Linked DNA regions of Homo sapiens: regions 1 and 3 are each linked to region 2. Evidence: fine-mapped expression QTL. A gene starts in region 2. Each other region holds a variant in brackets. All regions are shown on one strand. Distances are from middle to middle.

What was found. PIP is the estimated chance that this variant, and not a neighbour inherited with it, causes the effect.
Region 1: its variant is fine-mapped to the expression of NUP107 in cerebellum (GTEx, PIP 0.97).
Region 3: its variant is fine-mapped to the expression of NUP107 in tibial nerve (GTEx, PIP above 0.99). The same link has a PIP of 0.9 or more in B cells, Th1/17 cells, Th2 cells, caudate, esophagus muscle and follicular helper T cells.

Annotation. Positions count from the first base shown.
Region 1 is chr12:68,935,791-68,946,586 of GRCh38, reverse strand. It overlaps a transcript of CPM not described here. Among named protein-coding and RNA genes, the nearest start is that of CPM, 8.0 kb to the right of the region's middle. The variant C/T (reference allele first, on the strand shown) is at 4,402.
Region 2 is chr12:68,681,651-68,692,446 of GRCh38, reverse strand. It overlaps NUP107 (nucleoporin 107), which reads right to left and starts at 5,469. Exons shown (of 28, transcript NM_020401.4): 1 at 5,374-5,469; 2 at 3,394-3,485; 3 at 2,828-2,914; 4 at 1,701-1,816; 5 at 335-479. The coding sequence starts at 5,381. LOC100507250 (a long non-coding RNA gene) reads left to right here and starts at 5,588. Exons shown (of 3, transcript NR_038930.1): 1 at 5,588-5,710; 2 at 6,430-6,584. It also overlaps the pseudogene RPL7P42.
Region 3 is chr12:68,709,229-68,720,024 of GRCh38, reverse strand. It overlaps NUP107 (nucleoporin 107), which reads right to left. Exons shown (of 28, transcript NM_020401.4): 9 at 10,716-10,787; 10 at 9,932-10,020; 11 at 6,217-6,295; 12 at 4,285-4,398; 13 at 594-684; 14 at 371-447. Among named protein-coding and RNA genes, the nearest start is that of NUP107, 28 kb to the right of the region's middle. The variant T/C (reference allele first, on the strand shown) is at 5,357.

The DNA of each region.
Region 1 (10,796 bases), 250 kb before region 2:
GCCACCTTGTTTTTACAAGGTTCCCAACCTGTGGTAAGTAAAAATGTCCCTTTCTGATAGGCCTAGGAATCCCAAGTTATTTTGGTACCTCTAGAAATGAGGAATTCATTCAATTCATACAGGTATCTGCAGGCACAAATAAATCTTTGGCTGGGCTCAAGATGCTTTTAAAAGGTCTAATCTGAGATTCCTTATTAAAAAAACATCCAGCAAAGCCAATTTTTTAAAAAGGCCTATATAGCAAATAATTATTCATGTTATGTTTCATGCAAACAATTAGGCCTAGTATAAATAAAACCAAAGCTTATTTTGCAAATAAATTGGTCCTGCTATGATTTGTCTTTGGTAAAAATGGGGGAAAACTGGAGAGGGAAAAATTATGTTTCAAAAAAAACCTATAGCATGCCTGTTATTAGATTCTAGCCTTGGCTGGGCACAGTGGCTCACACCTGTAATCCCAACATTTTGAGAGGCCGAGGCAGGAGGATGAATCACTTGAGCCCAGAAGTTCGAGACCAGCCTGGGCAACATAGGGAGACCCCATCTCTACAAAAAATTATTTAAAAATTAGCTGGGTGTGGTGGTGCACACCTGTAGTCCCAGCTACTTGGAAGGCTGAGATGGCAGGATCACTTTAGCCCTAGAGGTCGAGGCTTCAGTGAGCTCTGATCATGCCACTGCACTCCAGCCTGGGCAACAGAGTGAGACACTGTCTCAAAAAAAAAAAAAAAAAAAAAAAAGAAAGAAAGAAAAGAAAAGAAAAAAATTCTAGCCTTGTCCATTGTTTGTGAGCCTATACTAATGACTCACATCTGATTGGTTCTTGGGGATATTTACCTGAATCCCTCAAGGCTTCAGATCAGTTCTGCAAGGACTCCTGAAGCTAAGACTTTCACACCTTGCATTAGGTCTCTTGTAGTTTACTGTTCTCTTAAGTGCTATACTAACGATGTGGATAAGAATACTAACGTTTTTGTTATACCAACATTGGGGACCCAACAAGGCACCTGGGAATACATACAGACAACTGCAAAATGGTTTCACTCCTCTTACCTTGGGGGCAACCCTTGCCCCAACTATACCCCCTGTCAACAGGAAGAGCAGTTGTCAGCCTTTTCCCATCTCCCCAGCTCACACCTCAGGATTGAGGTGTGCTGAAGCACAAGGGAGGGAACTGAAACCACCTTTGCAAAGATTATGACAGCAAGAAAAGTCTAACTTGACTGACTCCATCTTGCTTCTAGTCTCACAGGCTGGCTGTCTTTGCTAATTCCTGGGGGCACAAAGAGCTAACCATGGGAGGGATTTAGTTTATAGTTTCACTTGGAAGCAAGGATGATAACAGTCCCTCCCTAAAACTAATCTCCTCCTTGCTTAGAGAGTGAAAACTAATGAAAGGCCACAAGATTAGGGTTATTGGAGGGACCTGAATTCTGCTAAAGTATAGGTATACTTTTATAATCCCTTACTGCTCAGGAGTCATGTGGCCAGAGGTCACAAGATTTGTGACTTCCCCAATTGCTCTTATAGATAACATCACTACTGTAGAACTTAAGATTGGTCTCTTGAGATGTTTTTCAGATTTTTGTATTCTGGCCATCAACTGATCCTACCTGGACTCATGACTCATGACTCAACTGGTCCTGTGGCCCCCACCCAGAGGCAGACTCAGCTCACTGGGACAGTTTTCCACACCCCTATGATTTTTTTCCCAACTAATCAGCAGTACCCATTACCTAGTCCCCGCCCACCAAACTATCTTTAAAAATCCTAACGTCTGAGTTCTCAGAAAGACTGATTTGAGTGGTAACTCCAGTCTTTCTGCTCTGCTGCCTTGTCACTTCTTTATTGTAATTTAAAAAAAAAAAACAAAAAACAAGGTGAAGGAGCCAGGCATGGTGTCTCATGCCTATCATTCCTGTATTTTGGGAGGCTGAGCTGGGCGGATGACTTGAAGCCAAGAGTTTGAGACCATCCTGTGCAACGAAGTGAGGCCCCATATCTACAAAAAATAAATTATCTGGGTGTTGTGGCATGTGTCTGTAGTCCCAACTGCTCAGAAGGCTGAGATGGGAGGATTGCTTAAGCCCAGAAGTTCAAGGCTTCAGTGAGCTATGATTATACCACTGCACTCCAGCCTGGGCAACAGAGCAAGAAACTGTCTAAAAAGAAAAAAAGTAAGTACGTTCTGATAGTATGTCTCATAATATCCTGTAATTTTCTTTCTGTAATAGGCATCAAAATGGCAACTGAGTGACTGCTTATCTCTGTATCATCTTTCCCAATACAATATGAACTCTATCAAAGTGAGGACTATGTTTCTCTTTTACACCATGGTATTCATAGTGCTTAGCATATTATTAGATGTTCATTAAATAATTATCAACAGAAGGAATGAATGAACCAATTAATCATGAGTCATGAGGAGACAAAAGAATTTGTTTGGCTATTGTCTGAGTATATTTATAATTTGACTTTCCAGAGGTCATTGTTGAATAGATATGATGTATGCTGTTTTCAAAAGGGTCATTGAAAAGTAAATGATTAGATGAACTTACAAATTATTAACTATCTTCAAACAGTCTCTTTGTCACTCTGCTATATATACATTTTTCCCTTCTTCCCACACTCCCCCTGCCTTTCTTTCTGCTACAGGTACAGGGTATTAACAAAGATGGCAGATTCTTTCTCAAATATACAGTTTTTAAAAAAAAAAAAATCCAGAAATGGTTTTCTCGACATTTGAAACAAAGCTAGAAAAGAAATAAATTTCAGTAAGTATATTGTTTCCTAAGAGACAAGAGTATGACTTTCATCTGCTGTTATGTCAGATTGTTTGATATCACACAATCCAGATTAAATGCAGCTAAATAGGACTGTCTTTGCTTTGGAAATCGGCCTTATTAGAGCCAAGAAGCTTTCTTGCAAATCTATAATATAAACAAAGTATAGTAGGAGAAGTAAGCATTATTTTGCACTCAAAGACCATGAGTTTAAGAGAAAAAGTCACTATTGTAACAATTGCTTTGTAATTGTAAATTATCACAAATTTATGGTTGATAAAGGTCTATTCCACTATTGCAAATATGTTGGAAGGAGCTGGGATGTGGAAATAAATAAGATAAATATAAACATATACTATCTGTTGTATCCCTTTCTGTCTTGTTCATCTTCACTAGATGGTAATAATAATAAAAATGAATTCAGCTTGGGACTTATAAAGCATTTATAACAGGCCAGACACTGTTTGTTCTAAACTCTTTGTATATGTTAACTCATTTAATATATGCAACCCTGTAAGGTCACTATAATCCTCTAAGATCAATACCATGAGTTAGCCCAGTTTACAGAAAAGGACATGAATGCACCAAGAGGTGCAGTGACTTGCTCAGGGCACACAGTAAGCGACAGAGCTGGGGTTTAAGCTAAGATGGTGTGGTTCCACAGACCTTACTTTTAATAATTTACTATTTTAGTTATTACATATAATCTCTTGATGCTATATTCTTCCTAGAATAACACTTATAAATCAGCAAGCATGCACTGAGCTCTGACCTAGATGCCATGGGGGAAACAAAAAATGACACCATTTGATGCTTCACTCACTCTATTTGGGGTGTCTTCCTGAACTGAAATTAATTTCAAACGTTTAGATTTTTCCTGACATTGTTTCTCAGCTGATGTGTTAGGGCATACTGGAGTGTCAAACTTTGATCTGATTACATTTTAATTTTGCTTCACCAACAGTAGATAGAATGTGAAGCTAAGAAGGTCATGCTGTGCAGTACAGAATGTGGTACAAACCACTAGGGGATAAGACACAAGAAGCAGAAAGTAATATTATGCCAGCTCCCCAAGAAAGATCACAGGTTTCTTTGAACATGTGAAATTCTTTAGTGGAGATTTTTGGCTCTTGTAGAATGTAAGCTACCTAAGGGCAGAGATTTGTTCTGTCTTGTTTACAGTCGTATTCCCTAGGAGCAAGTGCAGTGCCTGACACAGAGTAAACAATAAATAATTGATAAGGAAATGAATGAATAATTAAAAATCAGAGAGTGGGGCAAAGCAGAAATAGGTTTACTCTCACAGTGACATAGTGCCAACAAGGGACAATAGTGTGATAACGGTGCATGATTTTATAGTCATTGCTGTGTATTTTTATATTCTTCCTATGGTACGCTTTTTGATTATGTAGATAGCATTTTTTTAGTCCTTTTCTTTCTTTGTGCCATGAAAAATTCTAGGATTCAGAAATTTATCACGAACACAAATGTGTATACAAATCCTTTCTAAATCTCTCAAAGGAATACTAATGCATTTACAGTTGCACATCCAAAATAAAAGAACTACTCTGTTTGGTTTTTGATAGACAACTTGCATAACAAACAGAAAACACAGCCA[C/T]AATTTCTAGAGAAATGCTTATTAAAAAGACATACAGTTCTAAAAAACAAAGTCTACTAATAAAAAAATAAAGGAACAATTTTTAAAAGATGCACAGCCAAGACTACAGAGTCCTTGTTTTAAACAGAGAATGCTTGAGTTGAGACATATTCTTTCAATCTCTGAGTCCCACTGTTTAGACATCACCCGTGGTAGTTTAGGGAAAGGATCATCTTGGACCTTAACAAAAACCATCCAGCTTTTCACTAACAATTTTCTTATCTCTAGCTATAAATAGCAATCTTTCCTTTCTGAAGAATTGCAAGGTCACTTTCCTTTTTTATCAAAAACAAACAAATCCGGTTTTGCTGGGGGTACTGATCTGAGTTGGGGGAGCTACTTTGAAGGAGGTAGGTTTAGTACTGGGGGAGGTACCAGGAGATCCCAGCTTAAGATAAATGCCCAAACTCCCTCAGATACATGAGAAGCAGCAGACAATAGAAAGAATCATTGAGCAGCATTAGTATAAGGCATTATATTCTACTTGTGAAATTTCAAGAAAATGTGTCTTTAAGGCCTAGGCAGGCAGATCACTTGAGGCCAGAAGTTCGAGACCAGCCTGGGCAACATGGTGAGACTCTGTATCTACAAAAAATACACAAAAAAATAGCCATGCGTGGTGGTACACACCTGTAGTCCCAGCTACCCGGGAGGCTCAGGTGGGAGGATTACTTAAGCCTGGGAGGTTAAGGCTACAGTGAGCTGTGATCACGTCACTGCACTCCAGCCTGGGCAACAGAGCCAGACCCTGTCTCAAAAACAAACAAACAAACAAAAAACAAAATAATGTAAAATAAGTTTTACCTTATTGGGCGAGTTATTTCTGAGCGACCATTTGATGCTTCACTCACACTATTTGGGGTGACTTCCTGAACTGAAATTAATTTCAAATGTTTAGATTTTTCCTGACATTGTTTCTCAGCTGATGTGTTAGCTTTATATACACACACACACACACACACACACACACACACACGTACTCAGCACATCTTCAAATTACTTCTGTAGCACAAAAACACACAAATTGACCAATGGAACAGAAATAAGCCAGTCACAAAAAGACAAATATTGCATGATTCCACTTATATTAGGAATCTAAACTAGTCAGACTTTTAGAAAGAATGTTGGTAGCCAGGAGCAGGAGAGAGAGAGAAAAGGTGGGTTGTTGTTCAGTGGGTATAGAGTTTCAGTTTTGCAAGGTTTGAAAAAGTTCTAGAGCTCTATTGCACAACAGTGTGCATAGAGTTAACACAACTGCACTGTACACTTAGAAACAGTTAAGATGGTAATTTTATATGTTTTATAGCACAATAATTTAAAAAATATAGGAAGGACATGGTCTCAGAATAAAGGGCCATCTTTTATCATAAAGAAAAATTTGCAACCCAATTCCAACATGTTAAGGTGTTCTCTTCTTGTTGTTTCATTGAGAACTGCTAAAAGTCTCAGTGCCCTTCTCATTTGGATGGTGGTCCTACTCAAACGTTTGGAGACCAAAGCCCCATTTGGTAATAAGAAGGATGTGTTGCCTGGCCTGGTGCTCTGGGCATATACACTTCAGGAGAACCTTTCGTAGGTAGGGGTTAAGGATTGGAATCTGTCCTGACAGAACAATGTCTTCACACAATTAACACATAGTTCACATACTAGATGAAAACAAATTCCAAGTGGACTACAAATATAAATCTGGGGGAGGGAGAGAGGGATGAATAGGTGGAGCACAGGGGATCACTAGGGCCATGAAATTATTCTGTATGATACTGTAATGTTGGATACATGCCATTATACATTTGTAAAAACTCATAGCATATGCAATATAAACTATAGATTTAGTTAATAATAATGTGTCAATATTGGCTCATCAATTTTAACAGATGTGACACGCTAACGCCAAGATGTTAATAATAAGGGAAACTGTGTATGTGGGTAGGGCAGGAAAAGGGTATATGGGAACCCTATACTTTCTGTTCAATTTTTCTGCAAATCTCAAACTGCTCTAAAAAAATTAATTTTAAAAAATGAGATGAAAGAAGAAAAATGAAAAAATAAAAATACCAAAGAAATAAAAATAGAAGAAAATATAAATTAATTTATAATTTAAGAATAAACTTTCTAAGAATATATCAAAAAACTATGAATCCAGAAGGAAAAGACTAATACACAACCAGAAAAATGAGCAAAAGCTATTAATAGACTATTTTTTAAAAGAAGAACAATAAATGTTCAATAAGACTATGAGAGAAATGTTCAGTCACATTAATACTAAAACTTAAAATTATGAGATTTCATTTTTATCTATGAAATTGGCAAACATTTTTAAAAGAGATAATAGTAATCATGAGGAGCCAAACAGGCATTTTCACATATCACCAGTGAGGACTGTAAATTGGAATGACCTTTGGTCAGAAAAAATTTTTCAAAACTTGGAAAGCAAAATATGATTGCATAATTTGTTTTCATGTTAGGCATTGCCTAACCAGTCCATCTAAGGTGAATTGAATCCTGACTCGTTATTACAGATTTGCACATTTTACAACTGTAAATTCAAATGTTAGTTTGTAGAAAATTGGTGAGATGCTATATTTTTGTCCAATGGAGATATAATTTCTGTCCTGCACAGATGAAAATAATTTTGCTCTGTAAAGATAGCACCAAACATTATGGTTTATCACCCTGTAAGACATTAATCAGATTTATATCTAATTTAGCAATAATGTAGAATGATTTTAGTATTCTTTTTTATATATTTATGTATATATATAGGATGTATATTTACATATGTATATTATATATAGTATGTATATACATAATATAAATACAATATGTATATAGGTATGTGTACACATAATACATATACTATATGTATATATGTACATAATATACATAAGTATATACATCATATACATATATGATGTCTATATGTATAGACATCATATACATTATGGGATGTACATACATATATACATAACATATACATATATTATGTATATATTATTATAGATATATGTACATATATACATACATATATGTATGTAGTAAATGTATATATAGATACATATGTGTATACATATATAGATGTATGTACATATATCTATGTATATACTTATAGATGTATGTACATAATATCTATATATATACTTACAGATATATTTATATAATATCTATATACTTACATATATGTACTATGTATATTTAGATATATACACATATTTATACATATATGCATATACACATATACATATATATGTATGTACATATATAAATAGATATACATAATATATGTATATACACATATAGATATATATGTACACATATAGATATACGTGTGTGTGTGTGTGTATACACACATATTTTCTCATGTCTTTCTTTGAACTGGCTTTGTTATCCTGCTGGTTTCCTCATTAATAAGTTAAAATTAAAACTTGAACTGTGCTTACTCTATATTTGTATGAGAATACTTTTTAACATTTTTTAAATTATACATTTGACATTTTATAGGAGTATAACTTGGCCAAATATTTTAAGTCTTAAAAGTGTACATGCTTTTTAACCTAGCAATTACATGTCTAAGAAATGATCCTAAGGAGGTAAGGACATGCTCAAAGGTTTAGCTCTGAGAATGTTTCTAGATGTGCTGTGTATAATAAAGAAATACCAGAAACAAATGTGCCACATTAGGGCGCTGGTTAATACCTAAATGTGTGTGTGTTTGTTTGATTGTTTTGGGGTTTGGGGATTTTTTTTTTTTAAGACAGAGTCTCATTCTGTCACCCAGAATGGAGTGCCATGCGATCATGGCTCACTGCAACCTCAAACCCCTGGGGTCAAGCAATCCTCCTGCCCCAGCCTCCTCAGTAGCTGGGACTACCTTGCCCCATCCCTAAATGTGTTTTAAGAATGGTTGTTTCCAGGTAAGTAAAATTTGTAAGTTTAAAATTTTTCTTTTATCTTGTTCAGATTTTCTTGTGACACTTTCAAAGAAAAAAGTTTGAAAGTCACAAAGTCTAGTTATACTGTTCTCATTCTTGTTGACATCTATTGAGGTACTTAGCCCCGACTATAGTTATTCCCTCTGTCCCAATTCCTGCTACTATCTTAGGGAAATTCAGAGTCCTTAAACAGAACCAATCCAACACTCTGGCTTTTTCATTCCTTAATTTCCCATTTCCAGTGATCTTTACCTCCTCTTCACTTTTGTAATTCACTCTAAGATATTTTGATCCTGTTTTCATTCAGAATTAGTCATTGGTCCTCTCTAACACTTTTGTGCTTTTTCCTCTGCTTTGCTTTTAAATTAAAATGCCTTCATTGTTTTTCCAATTTAAAAAAGCAATGCATGTTTGGTGGAAAAACTTTTCAGAAAATACAGAAAGATGTAAAAAAGAAAATTAAAACATTGCAACTCGTGGATTTGCACTCAGCATGTTGGTAACCTTAGAAACACATTGCTGGGAATAGTTTTTTTTTGTTTGCTTTATCTAAATGAGATCTTACTATTTATTTTACTTTTATTATCTGCTTCTTGCCTGAACAATTTGTCTTTCCAAGTGAATAAATGCAGATCTACATTGACATTATTATGGCTGAAAAACAATTAATTGTACAGCTATAATATTCTTTAACCCAGGGTGTCTTAACTTCAGCACTATTGACATTTTGGGCTGAATAATTCTTTGTTGTGGGAGGCTGTGTTGTGCACTGAAGGATATTTAATGCCTCCCTGCCCTCTGTATCAGCACTAGATGCCAGTAGCTCCCATCCCTAGTTATGACAATCAAAAATGTCTCAAGATATTGCCAAATGTCTGCTGTGGGCACTACTGCCTCAAGTTGAGAACCACTGATCTAACCAATCTGCTGTTGTTTGACATTTAGGTTTTATCTACTTTGTCACAATTTAAAGCAGCAGCACTTATGAAGCTCCTAACATATACAAACTCAACACATCTTCAAATTACTTCTATAGCATAAATTTCTAGCAAGGAATGGCACATACAAAATTTTGATGTCTATTCCCAGATTTCCCTCCAGAAAGATTGTATTAATTTAGAACACCATTGAAACAGCATAAATGTCATTTCCTGAGATCCTGTCTACTTCCAGGTATTGTCAATCTTTTTAATCTTGCTTTGTGATAAGCAAAACAAAGTATTACTTTACCCTTTTAACTTGTAATTCTTTGATTGCTTACCAGGTTGGTAACCTTTACTATATTTATTAGCTATTTGTGTTACTGCTTTTATGAACTGCTTATTCATCTCCTTTGCTCATTCTTTATTTTGTAAGAGCATTAATTCCTTCTTCCAGCTTGTAATTTTTCTCATAACCTGATTTAAACCTTTCTTCTTATAACCTTTATAAGGTTTTCTGTACAGAAGTCATACATTTGTATGTTTTCAAATTATTAGCCTTTTTATTATGGTTTTACCTTTAATGGTGCCATACTTAGAAAGATCACCTCTAGGTCCAGGCCTGGTGGCTCACACCTGTAATCCCAGCACTCTGGGAGGCTGAGGCAGGCAGATAATTTGAGGCCAGGAGTTCGAGACCATCCTGGCCAACGTGGTGAAACCCCGTCTCTACTAAAAATACAAAAATTAGCCAGGCGTGGTGGTGGGCACCTGTAATCCCAGCTACTCAGGAGGCTGAGGAAGGAGAATTGCTTGAACCCGGGAGGTGGAGGTTGCAGTGAGCTAAAATTGTGCCACTGCACTCCAGCCTGGGCAACAGAGCAAGACTCTATCTCAAAAAAAAAGAAGAAAGAAAGAAGATCACCTCTAAAATCTCTAAACTTCAGTATTTTACTCTATTAGGCTAACCTTTTATTTTGCTGTTATCTTTCATACTCTTAACACTAAATTTTTTTTTCTCTCTTGACCAGTGCACCTTAAACTTGAATGTACATATACATCATCTGGAAATCTTATTAAAATGTGTGTTCTGATTCAGTAGGTTTGGAGTGGAGTGACAGATTCTACATTTCCAACAAGCTCCCAGGTGATGCCAGTGCTGTCCCTGGCCTGCACTCTGAGTTACTAGCTCCTAAACCTTCAGCACTCAGTCCTCTGTACCCCCTACCTCCATTCTCTGACTCCTTCCTGAAGTTGCCTCCCTTCCTACCTAGTGTGAACCCCAATGGCAGCAATTTCAACTATAGCTCATCTCTGTTTTTCCAGAACAACAATCCTGGCAATCTCCATTCCAGTATTGATGAAGCCACCATTTCTTCCAGTCTCCAGCCACAGCACCCTGCAGGAAATCAGATAGTGTCCACGTACTTCTCTTAAAAAGATAGGATTTCTAAGGTACATCAGCAAGCCTTCACTTTGTTCCCACCCAGTTCCCTTTCCCATTCCT
Region 2 (10,796 bases):
CCACCATACCCAACTAATTTTTGTATTTTTAGTAGAGACGAGGTTTCACCATGTTGGCCAGGCTGGTCTTGAACTCCTGACCTCGTGATCTGCCCGCCTCGGCCTCTCAAAGTGCTAGGATTATAGGCATGAGCCACCGCGCCCGGCAACAGAGTGAGACTCTTGTCTCAAAAAACACACACACAAAAATCTGTTGTTTAAGCTACTCTCTCAAGAAAAAAAGACAGAAAGAAAGAAAAGAAAAACATAATGACGTTCAGAAACAGGAAGAAATGGTTTCCTTCATCTTGCTAAAGTGAAAAGCTACTTGTCACAAAGCTCAATGCCATTTTACCAGCTTCTCCAGGATCATCCTCACGTAACATAACAGCACTGATAGTTACATCTTCTGTTATACTGTGGGGCTCTGTGTTTGTGAACAGCCCGGAACGCTGTGATGAAAATGCAGCTGCCCAGTTACTGTCATCCAGATTAGTAACCTTAAAAAAAAACAAAAAAGTAAAAATACAGAAAAGTGATGGAGTTATTGTCACTGAGTGGATACTTTAAAAACAAATAAGGTTTCTAAAAATTATATGTATGTATGCGTCTTTTTTTTTTTTTTTCCCTTCTTGAGATAAGGTCTGGATCTGTTGCCCAGGCTGGAGTTCAGTGGCACGATCATGGCTCAACGCAACCTTTGCCTCTCAGGCTCAAGCCATCTTCCCACTTCAGCCTCCCAAGTAGCTGGGACTACAGGCACGTGCCACCACGCCTGGCTAATTTTTGTATTTTTGGTAGGTATGGGGTTTCACCATGTTGGCCAGGCTGGTCTCAAATTCCTGGCCTCATGTGATCCACCTGCCTCAGCCTCCCAAAATGCTGGGATTACAGATGTGAGCCACCATGCCCGGCTACTATAGTGTATTTTTAATACTTAGGTGAAGTCATTCTGCATCACAGCTTACATAACATTTCTTTTGCTATTTTTAATACTGTTCCATAGTGATTCCTAAAGAGTATCTCACCTACTTTTTCCAATTTTCTCTTTTATCCCCTTTAATACATTTTATCTCTTCCTTAAGATATTCTTCATCTGTTAACCTCTGATTCCTACTCTTGTATGCTTCAAAACAGGGATCAGATTTTATAGCCATCAGCAACCAACCACAGCATGTACTTCTTCTGGTCAGCAAACTGACAGATTAAAACATCTTATTTTCATCTAAAGGTTGCTGGTGTCACAGTTTCCATCTGTGATATCAGATGCATAAGGTTTTCAGTTTTTTTACTGTCTAATTATTTCAATCCATATAACCTAAAGTTACTGTTATGATGATTCTGACTCAATATTTGTTAAAAGACTTTTACATCAAATATCATATTTTTATAAAAAGGGAGAAGTTCTTTTTTCTCTTTTTTTTTTCTTTTGCAATCACAGGTCACTGCAACCTCTGCCTCCTGGGTTCAAGCAATTCTCACACCTCAGCCTCCCGAGCAGCTAGGATTACAGGCATAAGCCACCACTCCCAGCTAATTTTTTTATTGTTAGTAGAGACAGGGTTTTATCATGCTAAGCAGGCTAGTCTCAAACTCCTGACTTCTGGGAGGCCAAGGCGGGAGAATCACTTGAGGTCAGGAGTTCAGGGAGTGCTGAGATTACAGATGTGAGCCACCACACTCGACCCAAAAGGAGTTCTTAGCCCTATTTTTCTACATACCATGGAGAGATTTCCAAAGAACCCTGAAGACTGCGTAAGTCGGGGCGACTTCCCTCCTGTTCCAAGAATGCAGGAAATATCTGGCTGCCTTAGTAAGCTTCGGCTTGTTGGGGTAACTATAAACAAAAGGTTGGTAGAAAGAACCTAAAGTGCGTGAGCATTCATTATCAAAACAAAGTAAGCAAACAAACAATGAAGAATAAATTTTTCAGTTTTCCATTATTTAGACTCTAACCAAATAAATACTTTAAATGTTAACATTTCCATGATACAAGGATTTAACTTATTTTTCTAAATTTGAGCTGTAGGTACTACTGAGCCTAACAGGAAACATTTTACTGCAATTACAGATGCTTTCATTATAGAATAACTGAGCAGTTAAAGACACTAATCAGTCAACGGATTCTTCATATTTTAATTTTATAAGGCATACTGAGGCAGTGCAGTGTAGTGGGCATAAACTTTGGAGTAAACAGATCATTGTTTGAATCCCAGTTCCATTATTTACATACTCTTTTTTTTCTGTCTCAGAACAAAAAAAGAGTATGTAAATAATGGAACTGGGATTTTTTTTTTTTTTGCTCTGTCGCCCCAGCTGGAGTACAGTGGCACAATCTCAGCTCACTGCAACCTCTGCCTTCCGGGTTCAAGCAATTCTCCTGCCTCACCCTCCGGAGTAGCTGGGATTACAGGCATGTGCCACCACGCCAGCTAATTTTTGTATTTTTAGTAGAGATAGGGTTTTGCCATGTTGGCCAAGCTAGTCTTGAACTCCTGGCCTTAAGTGATCCACCCACCTTGGCCTCCCAAAGTGTTGAGATTATAGGCATGGGCCACTGCATCCAGCCTATTTACATACTTATTGTATATATTAGTTAACTTCTCTAAGTCTCACTTTCAGTTTTGGTAAAACAGGGCCAACAATACCCATGTCATAGTTACCGTGTGTTTATGGAAAGTACAGTACCTTGTACATGGCAAGAGTTCAAACGAATAATAACTGCAATCATTATTATTAGTGCTTATTGATATCGTAACCAAATACTATACTAATTATGTTACAATAAATGTTAGTTGCTATTATAATTACCGTTATTATTAAATGCTTTAAAAGCAAAAAATCTTACAAGGCTGTCGAAATGAGCTAGGAGTTCGAGGGATAACCTGGTTTCTTGGTGTAGTATTACCAAAATTTTCATCTTGAGATGCCTGAACTGTACAACGAGTTAAGAAAAGTTTTCCATGTAGAAAAGAGATCACTAAAATGAGAATTAACCATCTTTTTACTATACAAATTATGTGAATACATTTTTCAAGAACAAGTATTTTAGGGCTACCATTTTTCAATGCAAAGGGTAAATAATTCATTGCTTCTGCCATTTAAATGATCAGATGTCAGTCTTAGATAACTACACACTGAACTAAATGTTTTTAGTCAGTTTTCAAATAATAAAAAGAAATCTAATCTCAGCAGAAGCTGTCAGCAGTAAGAAATATCTTTATTTTTAGGGAAATACGATCTCATTAAATTTTTGCATTATATTTACCAAATGACAGCTCTGTGGAGTGAAAAAAAGTTTCTACAGGATTTTATTATAGCTACCATTTAATACTCTTATAAAAAGAAAATTCTACAACACTGATTCCAAACATGTTACAATTTTTATAATGATGCTTAAATCGCAAAGGATACGTAAAACTCTTTTCTGAGCACTCTGTTTCCGTGCAGTCCGTGTCACCTCTGCCTCCCGGATTACAGGGGATGATATCTCTCCAAAGCCACTCCTAAAGTAGTATAATCAAGCTTATATAAGTGAAACGAGAATATAGCATTTATAAAGAATTTTATCATCACAGTTGGAGTAAAGGACCCTGAGTAAGTTAAGGTATAGTCATTCTAGTAGCCAAGTCTTAGATCTTTTGTTGAGAACGCACTCCTGGCTCCAAATCCTGCTTATTCTTCAAAGCCTTACTCAAATCTTACCTGCACAAAGACTTCTCTGACTTTCTAGTACTCACTATGTTATTTTCTCCTAAGGAATTATTTCAACACTTGGAATCTATATTATAACACTGTTTTAGATAATTGCTTCATGAAAGTGAATCTTATTTCCCTTGTTGGATTGAGGAGTTACCTAACTGCAGGAATTCTCTCTTAAAAGATTTTCTGCAGTCTCCAAAATGCTTTAAACCATGGGTACTATTAAAAAACAAACAAACAACAACAACAACAAACAGAGCTTGCAACAACAACAACAAACAGAGCTTGTGAGATAGAAGGGTAAGTAAAAGAATTGTGGTAAATTGGAGCAAAATGACCCTTCAAGTTATTTCAACCCAGGAGGTCTCCTGTCCCATCACAACACTCCCTGTCAGTTTCACTCAAAGGTCTAGAAACTAAATTGTGCGGACTAAAAGGCCTGTGTTTAAGACAAGAATCTAATATGCTTTTCCTCCACTTAAAACCTTCAGATATTCCTTCAGCAGGAAAGTATGGGAAACAACCACATAGAAACAATTTTAAACGTTTAACAATTAAAATTAAAAACAAAAAAAAAAACCTTCAGATAGCTCTCTGGTCTATAGAAGTAAAAATTTCCTAAAATGATATTTACAATGTGACCCCAGTTTAGGGGTTCAGTCTTCTATTCAGCCACAAACATCACTTTAAACGTATACTGCATGTGACCACTGAGCTACACGTACTTTTTTTTCATATCCTAGCACCTCTGAATATGCTTCTTTTACAAAGACCTACATTTGCCCCCTTGAGCACCTGGTCAACAACTACTTACTCCTCAAAGAGCCTCAGGTAGGCTGGAGACACACAGATGCAGGTTGGCAATTTGGTTCTTGTATTTATTAGCTTCCGAACTTTCAGCAAGTTCCTTAACCTCTTTTAGTCTCAGTGTTATATATGAAAAAAGGATAACAGTACCCATCTCATAGGATTTTTCTTGTTCTGAAGATTAAATAAGCTAATAATATATATTCAACGCCTTTAGAACAATGGCAGTCACATAGTAGGTACTCAATGTTTGGAGTACGAATAATGTACTCTTATTATTCAAAGACCAGCTAGAAAGTTACCTTCTTTGAGGGGTCTTCCTGATAGTTACAGTGACAAGGAGACTTAATCGCCCCCAAACACTTACCACTTTACACTGCTTGGTTGTCTCCATTACACAACTAATTCCCCGAGGGGAAGGATCTTGAATAACTGATCTTTGTTGTAGGCGGCTAGCACAGTACCCAGATCATAGAGGGAACTCAGAATCTGATGCTGGCACTTGTAATCAGAAAGTCTGGGCTGAGATCCCAGTATCTTCACTGACTGGCTTTGTGATCTCAGGCTGGTCACTTAGCATTTCGAACGCCGCGCTACCTACCCCGCCCACCCCAGGAGCGAACAGTGTTGCTGCCCCAAAGCGCCGAATAGATCGCAGAACGTAGTGGGAAAGTAAGGGACTATTATGATCTGTACCCCACCCCGACGCACGCCAAGCGGCTTTTTCCCCATTTGTGGCCAAATTTCCCGGCATGGGGAAGGAGCCTTAGGGGAAGCACCCGGGACCTCCTTGGCTTCTTCTGGGAGTCTAGTTTCACCTATTTCGTTTCGCCAACAGGCGAGACGGGCAAGACTTCGGGCTCAGCTGCCACCATCAGTACTGACCTGTCCATGGCTAAAGCCTTTTCCACACACAACCAAAGTTGGCTGCAGTTTAGCTACCGCGTTTTAGCCTTCCCGCTCTCCGGAAGCAAGCCCTTCGACCCGGAAGCAGTCTGTCCCTAAAACAGACCCACAGAAAAGGGGTAGGGGAGAAGAAACAACGTTCCCATCTAGCGCATGCGCGACTTCAGCCTACAGGTGCACGCCCGGTGGGCGCAGGCGCAAAAGTTTGCCAATGTGTTCCTGGTTGCGTTTAGCCCAGACGCCCTGCGGCCGCTTTGCCTGACCAAAGTCTGTGGGCGTGGAACAGGCCCTGGGTTCTCCTACTGGGAAGAATGAAGTATGTTGATAGTCTGGAAAAATGTGAAGTCATTTCCTGGTATTCTCTGTCAGAAAGCGCCTGTTCTTGGAATTCAGATGCGTGGGCTCTGCCCCACACCTCGGGGATCTCTATCTCTCTGCCTACACTCAGTCCTTTGTTCTGTAGCCCCCTGCAGTTTTTGCAACTATTTTCCATAACTGCTATTTGTTCTTTACTTGGTGTTCTTTCCTATTAAGGAGAAAAAGTTCACCTGTATTAAAAAGTAGAAAGGCAAGCGTGAAATATGATGGTATTGCCCTCTATTTCAAAGTGCCGTCTAGGCAAAAAGTGGTGTATTTTGGTCTTGAAGGAGTCAGTCACATTTTTGTTTTGGTTTTTGTTTTTTCCAGTTTGAAAGTAGTGACTGGCTATTAACTGACCAGATTACAAAAATAATGTTAGATGCTTCAGTTTATCCGTTTAATAAGCCTGTTGATATAGTCTTTTCTGTTGCTGGCATTTATACCTTTTATTAATACAAAATAGGTAGTCCTTCATTCTCCCTCGTGGAGAAGATAATTTGAAGGATCACAGGAACTTGAGTTTTTCAACAGCATAGATCTCATGAATCAGATTCTCCAGTCAGATGATGCCATATTTATCAGGAAATCTAGCAATCAAAGCGTTATCTGTTAAGGTAATTTGTTTATTGATTTTGCCATAACCAATTTGTAGATCAGTTCATTTACTGATTTCAGGTTCAGGTACTCCATGTGATATATGGTTCCACAATCCTCAGCGTGTTAACTGAAGCCTTGTTGAGTTTAACAAAGCTGCCATTGAAGATCTGGGGAAAGTGAAGAAGTTGCAACAGAGTTTTGGGCTCACACCATTGATACATTTGATCCTTAAGGCAAGTGACAATTTGGGTTTCACAGGTATATAGAAATTGCCAGCTTTTCTTGCCATATATTTCTTGTGACAGTGCTGAGCTTTTTTTTTTTACTTCTTGCTTGCTTTTTTTTGGACTTGATTTTTTAAATTATGTTTCCTTCCTTCCTTCTTTCTTTGTTTTTTTTTTTTTTGAGACAGGATCTTGTCCTATTGTCCCGGCTTACGTGCAGTGGCACAGTCACGGCTCACTGCAGCCTTGACCTCCTGGGCTCCAGCAATCCTCCTACCTCAGCCTCCCTAGTACCTGAGGTTGCTGGGACCACAGGCACGCACCACCATGCCTGACCTCCTCTCCTCCCCCGTTTTTTAAAAATATTTTGGAGAAATGGGGTCTTATGTTGTTGCCCAGGCTGGTCTCAAACTCTTGGGCTCAAGCCATCCTCTTACCTGGGTCTCCCAAAGTGCTGGGATTACAGGGGTTAGCCACCACATCTGACAGTGCCTAGCTTTTTCATAGATGTAGCTTTCTCCTTGCTTTTCTTTTTCTTTTTTTTCGAGATGGAGTCTCATTCCATTGCCCAGGCTGGAGTGCAGTGGTGCCATCTCGGCTCACTGCAACCTCTGCCTCCTGGGTTCAAGCGATTCTCCTGCCTCAGCCTCCTGAGTAGCTGGGATTACAGGTGTCTGCCACCACACCCGGCTAATTTTTGCGTTTTTGGTAGAGATGGGGTTTCACCATGTTGTCCAGGCTGGTCTTGAACTCCTGACCTCAGGTGATTCACCTGCCTCAGCCTCCCAAAGTGCTGGGATTACAGGCGTGAGCCACTGCGCCTGGCCTTCTCCTTTCTTTTCAAAGCATTTTATGGGCAAACTTCTTTCTCAGGCACTTGACCTTTAGCTCTGTGAAATTCCTTCATGTGTTTTATTTTTATTTTTTGAGACAGAGTCTTGCCCTTTTGCCCAGGCTGGAGTGCAGTGATGCAATCTTGGCTCACTGAAACCTCTGCCTCCCCGGTTCAAGCGATTCTTGTACATCAGCCTCCCAAGTAGCTGGGATTACAGGCGTGCACCACCATGCCCAGCTAATTTTTGTATTTTTAGTAGAGGCGGGGTTTCACCATGCTGGCCAGGCTGGTCTCGAACTCCTGACCTCATGATCCACCCGCCTCGGCCTCCCAAAGTGCTGGGATTACAGGCATGAACCACAGTGCCCAGCCTTCCCTCACATTTTTAAAGGGTTTCTGGCACAGCAGGAATCTTCTTTTTCTTGTCTTCAATACCCTCCATGGTTTCAGCTGGGAAAGAGGAAATCAGTGGAAGTTTTGCCTTAGGCATTTATGTTCTGCTGTAATTCTGGGAAGCATAGTTCCCCGGAAGGCCTCTTCATACCTTATTATCCCCTCTCAGACAACATGGCATTTTGATAAAAACATTGCTTTGGGCTCCATCTAGGTTCAACCCCCCTGCACCTGCAGATTCCTCATCTGTAGAGTGGAGAAAACAATACCTTTGTCAGGGGGTGTTGTGAGGATTAAACAAGATGTCATAGGGAGTCCCTGTCTCTAACATAAGTTTTAAAAATTAGCCACGTGTGGTGACACGTGCCTGTGGTCCCAGCTACTTGGGAGGCTGAGGCAGGAGGATCACTTGATCCTGGCAGGCCGAGGCTGCAATGAGCTATGATCATGCCACTGCACTCCAGCCTGGATGAAAAAGTGAGACTTTGTCTCAAAAAAACAAAACAGACAAACAAAAAAAACAGAGACATCAACTGTATACACTGTACATAGCAGGTCATTGAAATGTTACTTTTCTCCTTTAATAACCTTTCTGAAGAATAATGCCCTGGCATGGTCTCATTCTCCCACCTCCTAATTTTCCTGTATACAAGTTCACTTTTTCTTATGGAAAGTGAAATGTAGTCCTAATCAGAGCTGGGGCAAGTTTATTCAAAGTATGATCTGTGGTTCATGTTCTTGCTCTGTGTCCCTCAGCAGTTGAATTCCAATGAGTTTTATTCGTGTAGTATACTTGAAGTGTACTTGAGGTGATTGACCATGAAGCACACAATAAAAATTAGCCCTGTGTTTGGGGCAAAAAAATTAGCCCTGTGTTCAGTTCATATGCAAAGATGGAAAACTTTTTGGAAAGTGCACTGGGTTTCACTTTTGACACATTTAATTAGTAGGCATGAACACCATAGCAACCCTGCCAAAATTTCAAAACATATTCATTTCATTACCTTAAAAGGATGTGGAATAAATTTCTTATGTGGTGTATATTGTATACATGGTAGCTTTATGTTTAGTATTCTTGGTTGCAATGACAGAAATTGACTATGGTTAACTTAAACAAAAGGGAATTTACTGGAAGCACATCAGGAGATCTTGGAATTGTTAAGAAACTGGAGAAAAGGTCTGGGATAGCACAGCTCCTCAGGAGCTGAAGGCCAGGAAGCGTCTTTCCCAAAGACACTCAAACTCCAACTGTTTGCTCCAGAGCATCCTTCACCTCCCTTATCCCCAACAGCTGAGGCATCAAATATCATTATTTGTACCCCCACCACCCCACCCCAAGTTTTTTTTTTTTTTTTTTTTTGGAAACAGGCTCTTTGGGCCAGGTGCAGTGGCTCACGCCTGTAATCCCAGCACTTTGGGAGGCCGAGGTGGGCGACTCACGAGGTCAGCAGTTCGAGATCATCCTGGCCAACATGGTGAAACCCCATCTCTACTAAAAATATAAACATTAGCCAGGCATGGTGATGGACCCCTGTAATCCCAGTTACTCTGGAGGCTGAGGCAAGAGAATCACTTGAACCCAGGAGGCGGAGGTTGCAGTGAGCCGAGACTGCACCATTGCACTCCAGCCTGGGCGAGAGAGCAACACTCCGTCTCAAAAAAAAAAAAGGGAAAAGAAAAAAGAAACAGGCTCTTTGGATCACTCAGGCTGGAGTTCAGTGGCGCAATCTTGGGTCACTATAGCCTCAGTCTTCTGGGCTCAAGCAATCTTCCCACCTCAGCTTCCTGAGTACCTGGGACTACAGACTCGCACTACCACACCTAGCTAATTGCTAATTTTTTTAATTTATGTTTTTGTAGAAATGGAGTCTCACTATGTTGTTCAGGCTCATCTGGGACTTCTGGGCTCAAGTGATCCTCCTGCTTCGACCTCCCAAAGTCCTAGGATGATAAGCCACCTTGCTCACCCCCTCCCTACTTTTTATTTTGAAAATTTTCAAACCTACAGAAAAGCTTATATAAGAATAGTACAGTAAGGCCGGCTGCAGTGGCTCACACCTGTAATCCCAGCAGTTTGGAAGGCCAAGGTGGGCGGATCACCTGAGGTCAGGAGTTTGAGACCAGCCTGGCCAACATGGTGAAACCCCGCCTCTACTAAAAATACAAAAGAAAGTTAGCCAGGCATGGTGGTGAGTGCCTGTAATCCCAGCTACTTGGGAGGCTGAAGCAGGAAAATCACTTGAACCTGGGAGGCAGAGGTTGCAGTGAGCCAAGATCACGCCACTGCACTCCAGCCTGGGCAACAGAGCGAGACTTGGTCTAAAAAAAAAAAAAAAATAGTACAGTAGACCTCAACATACAATATTTCACCACAATTGCTGTCTTTTTGTTTTTTGGTTTTGGCTGAACCATGTGAAAGTTAGCTGTAGTTATGATACTTCACCCCTAAATTTTTCAGCATGTATCTTCTGTTAAATAAAATTGATGTGGGGAGCATTGCTTTGGACTGAGCTCATGCCAAATCCATGTAATCAAACTGTACTTTAAAACAGTGTCTGTAGTCTCAGCTACTCTGAAGGTTGAGATAGGAGGATTGCTTGAGCCCATCCAGCCTGGGCAACACAGTTAAGACACCGTCAGAGGTCGGGCGCGGTGGCTCACACCTGTAATCCCAGCACTTTGGGAGGCCGAGGCAGGCAAATCATGAAGTCAGGAGTTCGAGACCAGCCTGGCCAACATGGTGAAACCGCATCTCTACTAAAGATACAAAAAATTAGCCGTGCGTGGTGGCATGCACCTGTAATTCCAGCTACTTGGGAGGCTGAGGCAGGAGAATTGCTTGAACCTGGGAGGCGGAGGTTGCAGTAGGCTGAGATTGCACCATTGCACTCCAGCCTGGTCGACAGGGCAAGACTCCGTCTCAAAAAAAAAAAAAAAGAAAAGAAAAAGAAACACACACACACACACACACACACACACACACATAAGAATGG
Region 3 (10,796 bases), 28 kb before region 2:
AGTTTCCCAATCTATGTATCCTACCTGGAATTCCTTCCTCTTGTTTTTCATTCTCAACAACGCAAATCCTACTAAGTTTTAAAAGTTCAATTCAATTCTTTCCTCAGGGAAGCCAGCTTTAAGCTTTAGCCCAGTACTTTTTCTCTAAATTCATTTGGTACCTCCTTTACTTTTCTGCCTTATATCAGTGTTTAATTCTTAGTACACAGTGTTTTAATAATTCTGATAAGTAGTTAAGCCTATTCCTCAATTTAATTGGAAATTCTCTGAAAACCAGTTTTACACTACTTTCAATGTTTCACAGCCCCTGAATAGGCTTTCAATTAATTGGAGTTAAAAACAGTATCACTGAATATTTTATTTATCTTACATCTTCTGCCATTCTCCAGCAACTTATTTTCCAAATGCGTCTATATGGATTCCCTTCAACAGGTTCTAATTCTGTTCCTATAAAATAGCAAAAGAAAATTTCTGGTTTAAAATAAGACCTTATTACAATTCTTTCTAAAAAGAGAAGCTATAGTTCACAAAGATTGGCATTTAGAGCGAAATGCCTTTGTCCTCAACTGTCAGAATAAAATCTACTAAAATACCTCCATTAACATTAGGGTCATGGTACAGTTTCCAGCCTTCAAGTGTTGCAGCTCTCCATGCTTGACCACAGCGTTTACAGAGTCGTTGTGCCTTAGAAAACAAGAAAGAGCAGTCAGTCCAATAACCAGGGTGCTTTATAGTAAAGTATAACCAATATATGACAAGCTTAGATAACTTATGGAACAAATGTTCCATCCATCCCATTACAAGGGATGGATGTAGACAGTTAATAATGGAATTCTGGCTGGGCGTGGTGGCTCACGCCTGTAATCCCAACACTTTGGGAGGCCAAGGCAAGTGCATCACCTGAGGTCAGGAGTTCCAGATCAGCCTGGCCAACATGGTGAAACCCCATCTCTACTAAAAACAGGAAAACTAGCCAGGCGCAGTGGCAGGCACCTGTAATCCCAGCTACTCGGGAGGCTGAGGCAGGTGCATCGCTTGAACCCAGGAGGCAGAGGTTGCAGTGAGCCGAAATTGCGCCACTGCACTCCAGCCTGGATGACAGAGTGAGACCCTGTCTCAAAAACTAAATAAATACATACATACATACATACATACATACATACATACATACATACATAATGGCATTCTATTTTTAAAACATATGCATGCCTTTCTGTGGCCTCTGCCTTTATTTTTCTTTCTTTTTTAAATTTTTTTGTAGAGACAGAGTCTCATTATATTGCCCAGGCTGGTCTCGAACTTCTGGACTGAAGGGATCCCCCCTACCTCAGCCTCCCAACGTGTTGGGATTACAGGTATGAGCCACCATACCTGGCCCTGTTTTTATTTCTAAAAAATCCCTTTTCTGTTTGACTTTAGGCTTAACAATACGTTCCCACGGCACCCACTGGCATTTAATTCTGCTAGAAACAAATGGGGTTAAAGAGGTTGATGACCTCTGATTTATGAAAAACTATTAAAAAAACAGTCTCTAATGACAAGGTTGTTACTGCTCATTTACTCCACTGATGATACTGCATGTTCAACTTGACCAATAAGTCAGTAAGTCAATGTGTTTATATACCAGTAAGGTAAATACATGTTTTTGTTCCATCATCCCTTTAGGGAATCACCTTTTCCCCATTCTTGGCTCCTGTGTTTTGGATAGGCCTGATCCGATTCCAGAAATCTAAGGTTAGGGATGTGAGCTAACAAGATTCACCACCAGGACTCTTGGTGGAGATACTGGGAAAGAAAATATACTCCTTTTACTGAGATTGCTAGCTCCATGTAAGCTTGGAGCTTCTTGTATCCATCTCTGATACAACATGGGGAGTAGCTTTCTGGGAATGAAGGCACAGAGAGGAGGGTTGAGCTATGGGTCTTGGACACAGACAGTATCCTAGTGATATCTTTGGAGTTCCTGGATCCTGCTGAAAGCCAGATATACCTTCTATACTTCCCACTTCCATGAGCCAATCAATTCTCCTCTTGTAAGCATAAAGTAACTTAGGTTGGGTTTCTATCACTTGAACCCAGAAAGCCTGATTGATACAACTAGTTAAAGAATATCATACCCCTAACATCATTCTGAACTTATAGCCTTTAAAATCTATGAGAGCTATGTAAGAATTAACATGGAAAACTATTTTGATATGGTATCTTAAAAAGGCAGGATAAAAACTCAATATAGAATGTTGAAAACATTATGCTAAGTGAAATAAGATAGTCACAAAAGCACATTGTATGATTCTACCTATACATCATAGAGACAGTAAGTAGATTAGAGGTTACAGGGGCTGAGGGAAGAAGAGAATGAGGCGTTACTGCATATAATGGTTACAGTTTGTATTTGGGTTGATGAAAAAGTTTTAGAAACAGACAGTGGTGATGGTTTCCCAATACTGTTAATGTAATGAATGCCATGAAGTGCACACTTAAATGATTAAAATGGCACATTTTGTTATATAATATAATAATATATATTATACGATTCACAAAATCAATAATGTAATATACCAAAACCATTGAATGGTGTCACTTGAAATGGGTGAATTACATGGTATGTAAATTTTATCTCAAATTGCTATTAAAAAAGAGGGAAAAAACTTGAATGTATAGTATGACTGCAACTACCTTAAAAAGGAAGACCAAAGAAAAAGGGCTATAAGTAAATACAAAACACTCACTATCTGTGGTTTTATAAAGCTAGTGAGACCTTGAGAATTTCTATTTTTTGAGCCTTCAATAATATGATTGTATTTTTGTTTTTTAAAATAAATCCCATGGCCGGGTGTGGTGGCTCACGCCTGTAATCCTAGCACTTTGGGAGGCTGAGGTAGGCGGACTGCCTGAGCTCAGGAGTTTGAGACCAGCCTGGGCAACACGGTGAAACCACGTCTTTACTAAAATGCAAAAAATTAGCCAGGCGTGGAGGCGTGTGCCTGTATTCCAAGCTACTTGGGAGGCTGAGGCAGGAGAATTGCTTGAACCTGGGAGGCGGAGGTTGCAGTGAGCCGAGATCGCGCCACTGCACTCCAGCCTGGGTGACAGAGCGAGACTCCATCTCAAAAAAAAAAAGAAATTACATAAGAAATTAATATATGCTTATGGTTGATAGCACAGAAGAAAACAAACAACACTTTGAACTGACATAGAATCTGTCTAAAGACCATTGCAAAAAGTACTGTAAACCAAGTACAACATAATACTGAAGCCAAACTCCTACACATCACACTATCTCACCTAAAGAGGCATCTGGTAAACTGTCCAATTAGATACTTATCATTCTACATATAAGATATTAACTATCACCCACATTTTTAAAAGGTAAGGTTAAAAGGAAGAAGTTTGAGGGCCATTGTAGCCTTCAAGTGCCTAAATAGTATCACCTAGAATTAGGGTTAGGTTTATTCTAAACTCTGAAAAATCAGAATTAGAAATAATGAAGATTGGGTCAGGTGCAGTGGCTCATGCCTGCAATCCCAGCACTTTGGGAGGCCAATGCAGGAAGATCACTTGAGCCCAGGTGTTCACGATCAGCCTGGACAACATAGTAAGACTCCGTCTGTACAAAAAATAAAAATGTTAGTTGGGCATAGTGGCGTGTACCTGTAGTCCCAGTTACTCAGGAGGCTGAGGCAGGGCTTGAGCCCGGGAGGTAAGGACTGCAGTGGGCCATGATTATATCACTGCATTCCAGTCTAGGCGACAGTGAGATCCCATCTCAAAAAAAAAAAGAAAGAAAGAAAGAAAGAAAGAAAGAAAAAGGAAAAAAAAATGAATGGAGATTGGGCCAGGTGCAGTGTCTCATGCCTGTAATCCCAGCACTTTTTAAGGCCAAGGCGGGAGGATCACTTAAGGCCAGAAGTTTGAGATTACGCTGGGCAACATGGCAAGACACTGTCTCAAAAAAAAAACAAAAACAAAAACAAAAATCTCAAACGGAACAAAAAAATAAATAATGGGGATATACCTAGAGTATGCAGTGCAATATGGGGAAGAAAAGTATGACTTGTTATAAATAATTTTCTATTAATTAGAGTTGTACAAACTAGATTACATTGTTTTCTCAAGTTACATGTGCCTTATCACCGGAAATGTTCGAACAGGAAGTTAGATCTAGAAATACCATGAATGGAATTACTACATTAAGAAGGCTTACTAGGCAGCCACAAAAATCTCTTCCAACTCAAAGAGTCTATGACTTTTTGAAATTAGACAAGAAGGGTATACATGACTGACCTCTTCTGTCATTCCAGCACGGATTAGAGTAAAGAGATATTTGAGTAATCTAACTTCATCTTCTCTATCCAGATCATCAAGGGGCATTTTCTGTCTTATGGGAGCATCAGGGTCCTGTAAGAAGAAAAAAAAGTCATCATCAACCATAAATCCTTTGTACTTACATACATTTTACACATCATCAAGAGATGATAAACCTATCCTGAGTTTATACACAAATAAATTCATTTTTTCTTTTTTCTTTTCCGAGACGGAGTCTTGTTCTGTCGCCCAGGCTGGAGTGCAGTGGCGCGATCTCAGCACACCACAACCTCCATCTCCTCTGTTCAAGCAATTCTCCTGCCTCGGCCTCCCGAGCAGCTGGGATTATAGGTGCACGCCACCACGCCCAGCTAATTTTTGTATTTTTAGTAGAGACGGGGTTTCACCACGTTGACCAGATTGGTCTCGAACTCCTGACCTCATGATCCACCCACCTCGGCCACCCAAAGTGCTGGGATTACAGGCGTGAACCACTGCGCCTGGCTGAAATAAATTGTTTCAATTTAATTAAGTAACAAAGGGAATGAAGCTCTCACAAGATTACAAGTGTTCCAAATAGCCACATAGTCATCTGCTTCCCTACTTAAAACATACTCAGTTGGCCCACAAAGGGCATGCCTCAGTCAGGCAAGGCAGAAATACTACTAGCCTATCCCAGCCCAGGTAACACTAGAAGATGACTTGAGTTTCACTCTATCACAGCAGCTACATGGTCAAGTTTAAATAGAATTAGACCTAGATGGAAGAAGAACACAAAGCAAAAACCTTCTGTTCTGTGACTACAAAGTGCTTACCTGGTACTTTTTGAGAACATATGGGAAGAGGGCCTATTAAGACCTATTTTGGGATTAATGCCACATAAAAAACACCAATGCCTAATAAAAAAATTTAAACAGATTTCTAATAAATAAGTACAAATCTCCCAAAACAGTTATTTCTACCTACCTTTTTTCCATGTGCTTCTAAGCATTTAGGATAATATATTGTTCTCACTTTAGCAGCAAACAGCACACATGATCTACATGATGGA[T/C]TTCCAATGGAAAACAATTTTAATGTGACTCAAGAAAGGAAGTAATTCTTACTCCACATGTTACTTAGTGTATGGTAATATGAATATCAATTCAGAAAATGGAATACATAATAGATCAATTCACTACTTTCATAAATATTTTGCAAACACATAATTCAATTTTGGAACATGGTCTCTTTCTGGCAAAAGGAAATCACCACTTTCCAGCTGGTAAGATTAAACGATTTTCAGCTGTTGCCTGCTACAATGTAATTTAGCTATAATCAATTTTAAGCTGTTAAGAGTAGTTTCCAAACAATTTTCTTTTTCTTTTTCCCAAACAATTTTCATCAAAAACCTCTTTGTTACTAAATGGAATTCTAGAAGTTTTTTTCAATTGTTACTTATTTCTCTCTTTTCACTATAAACATTTCACGTGCCCTGTCATAAAGCTTCATTCCTTTGTTTTTAGAATAATTCAGCTTCAGTTCTTTTCAAATCCACTTTTCAAATAACCGTTCTAACCTCAAACCAATAAGGCTTTAGTTTTTTTTCACTTGCTTTCAACATAAAAGAGCTTTCATAGGTCAGTCACTACCTTATATAGGCAGTCAAATCTTAAGATAAGACCAAAATTAATTTGTTTTTAATGCTGTCAAGTTAAGTATACTTTCCACAACTTATTACTTACAATTCAAAGGTCACGGATATGTTTCAATATATTCCATCAGATTCCAATGCAACTTAGTTGTTTTAGAGTAAAATGTTAGTGTGTGCAAACCTTTAGAAGAGCAAAACAAAGATCCACGAGAAAAAATTCTCAGCCTGAAAAAAAAAATCAGTTAACTTTGAAGGCAACTTTCATTTCAAAGAACATTTACCAATTCAGTGACAAGCGGACGAACACTTCCAACGTAAGAAGTCAGCTGCCGTTGTTTTAAGGTATGCAGAGTATTTTCCCTGAAAGAAATAATAAGTACCAAATTTTTTAAGAGGTAATTTTAATAGGTCTATTTTTAAAAAATCAAATCAAGTCAAAGGAAGAAAGACAGACTACAATCCCAGTAAAAACATGCAAAAATCCTTAATACAGAAGTACATTTTAGCTCAGATGACTAATGGTGTTGAGGGCTTTTTCATGTCCTTATTGGCCATTCATCTATCTGGTTTCGTGATGTATCAGTTCAAATTTTTGCCCTTTTTACTAGGATTATCTTTCTACTATTGAGTTATAGTTCTTTATGAACTACACATCCCAGTCTGTGGCTTGCTCCCATTTATTTTCTTAATGGTGGGTTTTTTTTTTTTTTTTTTGGAGACAGGGTCTCGCTCTGTTGCCGAGGCTAAAGTGCAGTGGCACAATCATGACTCACTGCAGCCTCGACCTCCCGGACTCAAGTGATCCTCCCATTTCAGTCTCCTGAGTAGCTGGGACTACAGACACGCGCCACCATGCCCTGCTAACATTTTAATATTTTTGTAGAGATGGGGGTCTCACTGTGTTCCCCTGGCTGGTCTTGAACTCCCGGCCTCAAGTAATCCTTCTGCCTCAGCCTCCCAAAGTGCTAGGATTACAGGTGTGAGCCACCATGTCTGGCCAATGGTGTTTTTTTAATGATACATTTTTAATTTTGATAAAGTCAAACCAATTTTTTTGCCTGATTATTGCTTTCTATGAGCTAAGATACATCTATCTATTCTCAAGTTACTAGGATATCTTCCTATGCTTTTCTTTAAAAGCTTTATGGTTTTTAGCTTCTACATTTAGGACTATGACACATCTTGAATTAATTGTTGGGTATGGAGTGAGGGAGCCATCAAGGTTAATCTTCTTTCTCATAGATATCATTTTTCTGCAGTTTGTAAAAAAGGCATTCCATTCCCTGCTGGATTGCTTTGATGTCCTTGTTGAAAACCAAATGACCATATCAGTGTGAATCTATTGTGGGGTTCTCTGTTCTGTTCCGCTGATCAGCAAAAAAAAGGAGATTAACTCATTAAAAATTGTAAAAACCCAACAGGGCATTTTAACTAAAAAAAAAAAACAAAAAACAAAAAACAAAAAAAAAAACTTATTTTCTGAAAATGAAAACTTCCTTTCAGAAAAAAAATCACATCCACTTAAGATTTAATTTTTAACAAATGCTTAGTAGCAGTAATTTCCTAGCTAAGCAGAGAAAATATATAATTGACTTACAGACTTTGTACACATATTACTGAATTCAAAGGCAATCTGGCAATCTGACTTTTTTTTTTTTTTTTTTTTTTTTTGAGATGGAGTTTTGCTCTTTTTACCCAGGCTGGAGTGCAATGGCGTGATCTTGGCTCACTGGTGCCCGCCACCACGACTGGCTAATTTTTGTATTTTTAGTAGAGATGCGGTTTTACCATGTTGGCCAGACTGCTCTTGAACTCCTGATCTCAGGTGATCCACCTGCCTTGGCCTCCCAAAGTGCTAGGATTACAGGTGTGAGCCACTGTACCTGCCCGCAATCTGACCTTTTAAAAATCTTTTGCAAGTCTTAAACCATGCCCAGCCACAATCTGACCTTTTAAAAATCTTTTGCAAGACTTAAAATAAACTGTCCCTTTAACTTAGGGGAGGTTTCTGGCTTCAAGGGCCTATAATAATTTAGAAGTACTGAAGAGTGTAAGCAAAAGCAAGACAAAACAAAACAAACCCACACAAGTAGCTGAAAACAGGACAGAAGTGTCTTCTTGACAATCAGAAGATCATCTTCTGATATGATCAATAATCTTATTAAGAAAAAAGCAGGCAGGTGATTGTTTGAAAACATAAATTGGACCATGTCATTCTTCTATTCTCAAGGTTTCCCATCACATTTAGAATAAAGTCCAGAATAGTTACATTTGTCTGCCTGTAAAAGCCCTATATCTGGCTTCCTCCAGTCTTGTTTTCTACCATTCTTTTCCTTGCTGTGTTCCCACTGGCTTCTTTGTGCAAACACTTTACGTTCTCTGGGTCATTCCAGTTTGTTTTCCTGCTCAGAATAGTTATCCCCCAGATTTTTGCATGGCTGGCTGCCTTTATTTCATAAAAGTCTCTTACTACCTTAGAAAAGCCTTCTCTTCAATTTAAAGTAGGACTCCCTGTCGTATCTATCCATTAATTCTAATCCTTTTTTTTTTTTTTGAGGTGGAGTCTCGCTCTGTCACCCAGGCTGGAGTGCAGTGGAGCGATCTTGGCTCACTGCAAGCTCTGCCTCCCAGGTTCAAGCTCCTGTCATATCAGTATTTAAATACAGAATTCAGGATCTCCTACTTTAAAAACAATCTCCCTTCTGAGTTACTTTTATTTTATTTATTTATTTATTTTTTGAGACAGGGTCTCACTCTGTCACCCAGGCTGGAGTGCAGTGGCGCAATCTCGGCTCACTGCAACCTCTGCCTCCTGGGTTCAAGCGATTCTCCTGCCTCAGCCTCCCAAGTAGCTGGGACTACAGGCGCCCGCCACCACGCCTGGCTAATTTTTTGTATTTTTAGTAGAGATGGGTTTCACCGCATTAGCCAGGATGGTCTTGATCTCCTGACTTCGTGATCCGCCCGCCACCACGCCTGGCTAATTTTTTGTATTTTTAGTAGAGATGGGTTTTACCGCATTAGCCAGGATGGTCTTGATCTCCTGACTTCGTGATCCACCCGCCTCAGCCTCCCAAAGTGCTGGGATTACAGGTGTGAACCACAGCGCCGAGCCTCTAATTCATTTTTTTCCCCAAAGCTCGGAATACCCAACAGAATATACATTTGTCTCTTGGTATCCATAGGGGACCCTACTTGGATACCAAAATCCAAGGGTGCTCAGATCCTTTACATAAAATATTGTATTATTTGTATATAACCTACACATGTTCTCCCATATACTTTATATCATCTCGATTACTTAGAATACCTAATACAACGTAAATGTTATGCAAATAACTATTATACTATATTTTTAAATTTGTATTACTTTTTTTATCTTGTTATTTTTATTGTTTTATTCCAATTATTTCTTTTCTGTTTTTTTTTTTTTTTTTTAAGACGGCCTGCTCTGTCGCCCAGGCTGGAGTGCAATGGCATGAACTCGGCTCACTGCAACCTCCACCTCCTGGATTTCAGCGATTCTCCTGCCTCAGCCTCCCAAGTAGCTGGGATTACAGGTGTGCGTCACCAAACCCGGCTAATTTTTGTATTTTTAGCAGAGACAGGGTTTTACCATGTTGGTCAGGCTGGTCTGGAACTCCTGACCTCGTGATCCCCCACCTTGGCCTCCCAAAGTGCTGGGATTACAGGCGTGAGCCATCACACCCGGCTTGTTTTATTCCAATTATTTCTGATCTGCAGTTTGTTCAATCCATGGATGCGAAACCCACAAACTCAGAGGGCCAACTGTATATTTGCAAATCAGCTATCTAACTCTCTTAAACAATTATAAATTCCATAAAGGCAAAGCCTTTATTTGTTTTGCTCACACACCAAACAAAGTAGTGTGAACAAAGTAGTGTGAACAAAGTAAAAACTGAATAATACTTATTGAAAGATGAATGAACAATATCAACATTGAGTGACCTTAAGAATTAAAGTTTGGTAACTTACCAATATACTGATTTTGCATAAAACTCAATATTATCAGAAAATTCTCCAATTTCATCTTTGGCAATACTCTCTAACCAATCTACCACCAGCTAAGAAAGAAAGAAAAAAATAAATTAGTGTTAACTACCAAATCTATTTGTGTTTTATTTGTAGTGGTACTACTACCCTTAATTCAAACAGTTTCAGATTTTTTATTTTTTTTTTTGAGAAAGAGTCTCACTCTGTCGTGCAGGCTGGAGTGCAGTGGCATAATCTCGGCTCACTGCAAGCTCTGCCTCCTGGGTTCACGTCATTCTCCTGCCTCAGCCTCCCAAGTAGCTGGGACTACAGGCGCCCACCACCACACCCAGCTAATTTTTTTTTTATTTTTAGTAGAGACGGGGTTTCACTGTTAGCCAGATGGTCTCGATCTCCTGACCTCGAGATCTGCCTGCCCTGGCCTCCCAAAGTGCTGGGATTACAGGCGTGAAGTTTCTGATTTTAAAAATATCAAGTAACAATTTTTCCAAACACTATTTTTACTTTAAGATAAATAAATATTATGGCAAAAGAATAAAATTTTCTATAGGAATAATCGTTTTTAACAGGCTATTCCTGAAAATACTAGGGCTATTACTTAAAAATCAAAGAATAAGGTTTCTAATTCCTTTTAATTGCAAATAAAAAGATCAAGTAGAAAAAAAATTCAGAAAACAGTTTTAAGTTAAAAAACACTTCAGTACTTTGCATGTCATTAACCTTTTCTCCATGTTTCATAAAAAAAAATTTTAAATTCTAGTCATACCTGACTTTGTCGAACAAGTGAATCCCTCTGAAATAACGCTTCCACAACTGTTTTTTCACTGGCATTAACAGCCTATTATGA